Linked DNA regions of Homo sapiens: region 2 is linked to region 1. The links come from fine-mapping of genetic effects on gene expression. Tissue or cell type: whole blood. Region 1 holds a variant in brackets; the other region holds the start of a gene. All regions are shown on one strand. Distances are from middle to middle. Region 1 has its middle 30 kb from the start of TUG1. Region 2 holds the start of MORC2-AS1 (MORC2 antisense RNA 1).

The links. PIP is the estimated chance that this variant, and not a neighbour inherited with it, causes the effect.
Region 2: it holds the start of MORC2-AS1, and the variant in region 1 is fine-mapped to the expression of MORC2-AS1 in whole blood (INTERVAL, PIP above 0.99). The same link has a PIP of 0.9 or more in CD4 T cells.

What each region holds. Positions count from the first base shown.
Region 1 is chr22:30,998,098-31,001,009 of GRCh38, forward strand. No RefSeq gene overlaps it. Among named protein-coding and RNA genes, the nearest start is that of TUG1, 30 kb to the left of the region's middle. The variant C/G (reference allele first, on the strand shown) is at 1,510.
Region 2 is chr22:30,920,932-30,923,813 of GRCh38, forward strand. MORC2-AS1 (MORC2 antisense RNA 1) reads left to right here and starts at 1,377. Exons shown (of 2, transcript NR_026920.1): 1 at 1,377-1,584. LOC107985544 (a long non-coding RNA gene) reads right to left here and starts at 848. Exons shown (of 3, transcript NR_146603.1): 1 at 657-848.

The sequences.
Region 1 (2,912 bases):
TAAATATTTCATGATACATTGTTTTCCTTAAATTAGCAGTTGATACCTACCAGGTTCGTTCTGCCCATGTGCAGTAAACCAGTCACTGTGACCAGATTTTGCAAAACAGAAAAGGTTTATTCACAGGGCAGCCCAGCAAGAAGGTGGGAGAACAGCTCTCAAGTCGGCCTCCCTGAAAATAAGGTTTAGGAATGTTTATGGATTAGAGAAGCGGAGAGGTCTAAGGCGTAGGAAGAGATGATTGACATTGAGGAAAAATGAATTGGTGATCTGTGCAAATGTAGTTGGGGTCATGGCTTTTTATAGGATGCATGTTCAGAAAATGGCTGCGTTAGCATCATCAGAGGATAGAGTTTTTCTCCCTGTAATTCCAGAAGGCTACCTCAGGGGCATTTGCACATGCCCAGTTGAAGGGTTAGTGGTCTCAACCAGTTTGAACTGGACAGGAGCTGTCCCCAAGCTCCTGAAAAGCAACCTAAGCAATCATTAATTACCATGGCAACATATACTTCAGAAATGTTATCTGTAAGGAAGTCAGTGAAGGTCGTTACTGTGTTAAGCAGTGTGACTTTTAGCTACCTGGGTAAAATAATAATAATAATAGACAGCCGGGCACAGTGGCTCACGCCTATAGTCCCAGCACTTCCAGAGGCTGAGGTGCTGAGTGGATCCCTTGAATCCAGGAGTTCGAGACCACCCTGGGCAACATGGCGAAACCCATCTCTACTAAAAATACAAAAAATTAGCCAGGCATGTTGGTGCATGCCTATAATCCCAACTACTTGGGGGCTGAGGCAGGAGGATCACTTGAGCCCAGTAGGTTGAGGCTGCAGTGAGCCCTGATTGGGCCACCACACTCCAGCCTGGGCGACAGAGCGAGACCCTGTCTAAAATGACCACCACCACAAAAAAAGCAAAAAACAAGCGAGTGACCAAAAGCAGCAAGCAGGGCAGGTTAAGTTTGGCAGACCTAATCAGATTAGCCCCTTGGTTTCTTGAACCTATCAATGACTTTTTTTCAGACGGCATCTCAGTCTTTCGCTCAGGCTAGAGTACAGTGACACCATCATAGTTCTTTGCAGCCTCCAACTCCTGGGCTCAAGGGCTTAAGAGATCCTTCTGCCTCAGCCTCCTGAGTAGTTGGGACTACAGGCCTGAGCCACCGGCCTGGCTTGTATTTTTAAACCATAAAGTTATTTTCATAAAAGAAAGCCAAATATACGTAAAAGGATATTGCTGACATCATTTATAATAACAAAAAAAGTCAAACAACTGAAATGTCTATCAATAAGAGAATGGAATAGTTATATTATGGCACCCCCATAAAATACTGTGTTGCTGTTGAAAAGAGTAATGTAGATTTATGTGAAGGAACATGGAAAAATACTTTAAAAAGCAAGTTGCAGAAAAATACATTCTCATTTTTATGGGGGAAAATAGTTCAGTTTAAATTACCCAACTTCAATTCAAAGGGCTGGGAATTAAAAAAAAGAGAGAGAGAGAGAGAGA[C/G]ACAGACATAGACAAAGAGATAGAGATATACATATGTGTTTATGTATAGGTATATGTACGTATGAGTATATATATTTCAACCTGACCCCTAAATGCAAACTGATACTAAACAAAAAAAAATGTATTTCCTGATGTAGGAAAATTAGTTGGACTTACTAAGGAAGGTACAATATGTGTTAAGACTGCACATACTGAATTTTATGAAACATGAACTATTTGAGGCAATTTTTAATAATAATAAATTTTACATTATGACCTGACAACTTTAGAAGCTACCACCTCATGACCACATAAGACATTATTACTTTACTCCTTATATGGGGACCAGAAATTATAGAAAGATGGAAACCTATCACTCAACAGATGCGGGACAGACTGCTACTTTGTATTTTGTTTGTTTGTTTGTTTTTTGGGACAGAGTCTCACTCTGTTCCCCAGGCTGAAGTGCAGTGGCTGGCTATCTTGGCTCACTGTAGCCTCTACCTCCCAGGTTCAAGCGATTCTCCTTCCTCAGCCTCCCAAGTAGCTGGGATTACAGGCGCCCATCACCACACCCAGCTAATGTTATGTATCTTTAGTAGAGATGGGGTTTCCGCATGTTGGCCAGGCTGGTCTCGAACTCCTGACCTGAGGTGATCCACCTGCCTTGGCTTCCCAAAGTGCTGGGATTACAGGCATGAGCCAGCATGCCTGGCCCAGACTGTTACTGTGTGGGTTTTTTTGTTGTTGTTTATTTGTTTTTTTTGAGATGGAGTTTCACTCTTGTTGCCCAGGCTGGAGTGCAATGGCGTGATCTCAGCTCACCACAGCCTCTGCCTCCCGGGTTCAAGCGATTCTGCTTCAGCCTTCCAAGTAGCTGGGATTACAGGCATGTGCCACCACACCAAGCTAATTTTGTATTTTTAGTAGAGACGGGGTTTCCCCATGTTGATCAGGTTCGAACTCCCGACCTCAAGTGATCTGTTCGCCTCGGCCTCCCAAAGTGCTGGGATTACAGGTGTGAGCCACCACGCCTGGCTGTTACTTTGACTATGTACTCACATACAGTTTTATATTTGAATTTGTACAATTTATTACATACTTTATAACTTTTTAATTATAAAAATGTCTGTATTTATATATCTTTCTAAGTACATATATATTCGTAAAACACTATTTTTAATGGTTCCATATAGTTAGACACTTAAGTTTGTATAAATTTTTTTTTTTTTTTTTTTTTTGAGATGGAGTCTCGCTCTGTTATCCAGGCTGGAGTGTAGTGGTGCGATTCGGCTCACTGAAAGCTCCGCCTCCCGGGTTCACGCCATTCTCCTGCCTCAGCCTCCCGAGTAGCTGGGACTACAGGCGCCCGCCACCACGCCCAGCTAATTTTTTGTATTTTTAGTAGAGACGAGGTTTCACCA
Region 2 (2,882 bases), 77 kb before region 1:
AATCTTATTGGAGGACCTAAAAGAAGTCTTGAGTAAATGGAAAGCCATTTTTTATCCTCTGGGGGAGGATTAATATCACAAAAATGTCAATGCTCCCAAAACTTCCATTTAAATTTAATGCAATTATAATTTAAATCCCAATGGAACACTTTCTTTTAGGCAGGGATGGGAACGAACTGGATAATGCGATTAAATATTTCATGTGAGAGAATACATTCTAAGACTGGAAAAGCATTTTTTAACAAGTGAGGGAGACTGATCTATTTAGATGCTGATGACGCCCAAAATTATAGTTTCAGCCAGAACCTCACCCCTCACATCAGACTCACTTGTGCAACTGACCACAGATGTCTCCACTGGCGTCTAAGCGGGATCTCAAACTCAACAGGTCCACACCTGTTGGCTCATTTAGTAAGAGGCTCATTTAATAAGTGGGGCTGGAATAAGTTAATTTCCACCTGGGGGCGGGAGACGCTTGACTCTTGCCTTACAGCTTATACTAAAATATATTCCATAAGGACTATAGGTTGTCTAGTAAAAAATAAATAATAAACATTGCAACAAAATGTAAGAGAATATCGGGGGAAGGGGAGAAGAGAGAAGGGGATTGATTTCCCTAAGCATGATAGGAATCCCCAAAACTTTAAAACATTTACCTTTCAACAAACACCATAAACCAAGCCAAGGACAAACGCATAGAAAACGGACTAATGTTAACTAAGTCCAAGAGGCTTCAGGCGCTTGGCCTCGGGTCAAAAGGGAGACATACAGGCTGGCTCTTCCGGGCAAGAGGAAAAACACGCAGCTTCCTTTCCAAGTGTTCTTCCTTTCAGAGATAAAAGCGCCGACCCTAAGGACATCTGTTCAACGAATGTTTTTCCCTAATGACCCCCGGAAAGTTGGAAAGCCGGGGTAGAAAAGATTTCTTCTGCACTTTGACTTAATTAATGCGCAGCAGCTTGCAGGAAAAAAAAAAAATCCTCGCTTCTCTGTTTCGGGTGTGAGTGGGCCATTGCTCTCCCTGTAAGGAGCTACTAGAGACGCTGAGGCAGGAGAATCGCTTGAACCCTGGAGGCGGAGGTTGCAGTGAGGCGAGATGGCGCCACTGCACTCCAGCCTGGGCGACAGAGCGAAACTGTCTCAAAAAAAAAAAAAAAAAAAAAGTAGGGGATTAGAGCTGGCCACGGCTTCCCCAGAAACCTGCAGTTACTGGAGTAGGAAGAGGCCTCGGAGAATCCCTGGAAGCATCTACCTAAAAGACGCGAGGAAACCCCCAAAGGCCACAGGCACCTGCACCAAACCCTGAGTGCCGCAGGAAGCTCGCGAGGCTTCCAAAGCGCATGCGCAGGTCACGGTACGGGCACGTGCGGCGCGCCAGCAAAACCACGCAGGCGTCTTGTCGCTTCCGCCTCGAGCGTGTGGCGGGATTGCGGAAGCCCTCCACAGTTCATAACCGTTGGCTGGTTATGAACCGTTCATAACGGGCGTTAATAACCATACCCTGTTAGACTAAGCATGGTCCACCCGCGAATCCTCTACAGAGATGGCCAAGCGCTGGGGTCGTGGCTGCGTCCTCTAGGCCAGGTGAGAATTTACAACCCACCCTCGGCCACTGTTGTGCTGTGGCCGCTGATGATTAAGCATGAGGAACTCAGAAACTCTGAACCTTCTGACAAACGGGTTCTCCCCTGCCCACCGCGGTGCCCCAAACCCAGCAGGACAGATTGGTTTACATGGTGGGGCATTGGGGAGGACCCAGAGCTTTCAATAAGGGAAGAAATGATGTGGGGAGGGACAGTAAATCAAAGTAGGGGATTAGGCCGGGCGCTGTGGCTCACGTCTGTAATCCCAGCCCTTTGGGAGGCTGAGGCAGATGGATCTCTCGAGACTGGGAGTTCTAGACCAGCCTGGCCAACATGGCGAAACCCCATCTCTACTAAAAATACGAAAATTAGCCGGGCGTGGTGGCGCGCGCCTGTAATTCCAGCTACTAGAGAGGCTGAGGCAGGAGAATCGCTTGAACCCTGGAGGCAGAGGTTGCAATGAGGCAAGATGGCGCCACTGCACTCCAGCCTGGGCTACAGAGCGAGACTGTCTCAAAAAAAAAAAAAAAAAAAAGTAGGGGATTAGAGCTGGCCACAGCTTCCCCAGTAACCTGCAGTTACTGGAGCAGGAAGGGGCCTCGGAGAATCCCTGGAAGCATCTCAACAGAATCCAGAGGGGACAAGAAAAGAGGAGGGATACGTCTGTCGCATCCTTCCCTTCTCATTGATCCAAGTTTGCACTAGTGGTGTGAGCCCTCCTTATCTTCCAGGCCTTGGTGGGCAGCTGTTGACATGTCCAGAACCCCAGGAAGTGCTGAAGGTACCTGCAGTTCAGGCCCCATGGAAGCCCAGACCTCCTTCACCCTTCGGGGACACTGAAATTGGCCAAATGTTTAGGCCATGAGGATGGCTGCTGAGTAAGCCCATAATCCCTACATCGGACACAAGTAAGCAGGTGAAGGCCTACAGGTAGCAGGTAGGGGCCAGTGAATCTTGGAAGCAAAGATTTGGGGGTCAAGAACAGCAGGGAGCTCTGGGCCCCCATCCTAGCTTCAACCAGAGCAGCTCCAGGACTCCTGGCTTTCCATATGGGCTTCTGGATAAATTTTAGGTACTCCTGAGGCTGAATAAGCTGGAAAGCCTCTGCCATCACCCAACTCCGTTATTTTAGAGGAGGAACAGGAGCCAAAATGGGCAGTGACTTGTCTGAGGCCTTGCCAGCTTGAAGAAGGAAATGTCCGCTGAACCCAACAGTGGCCCTGGTAAGGCCTGGTGCATTGCAAGTTACCGGATGAAAATGGTGACTGGCCGGGTGCAGTGGCTCATGCCTGTAATCCC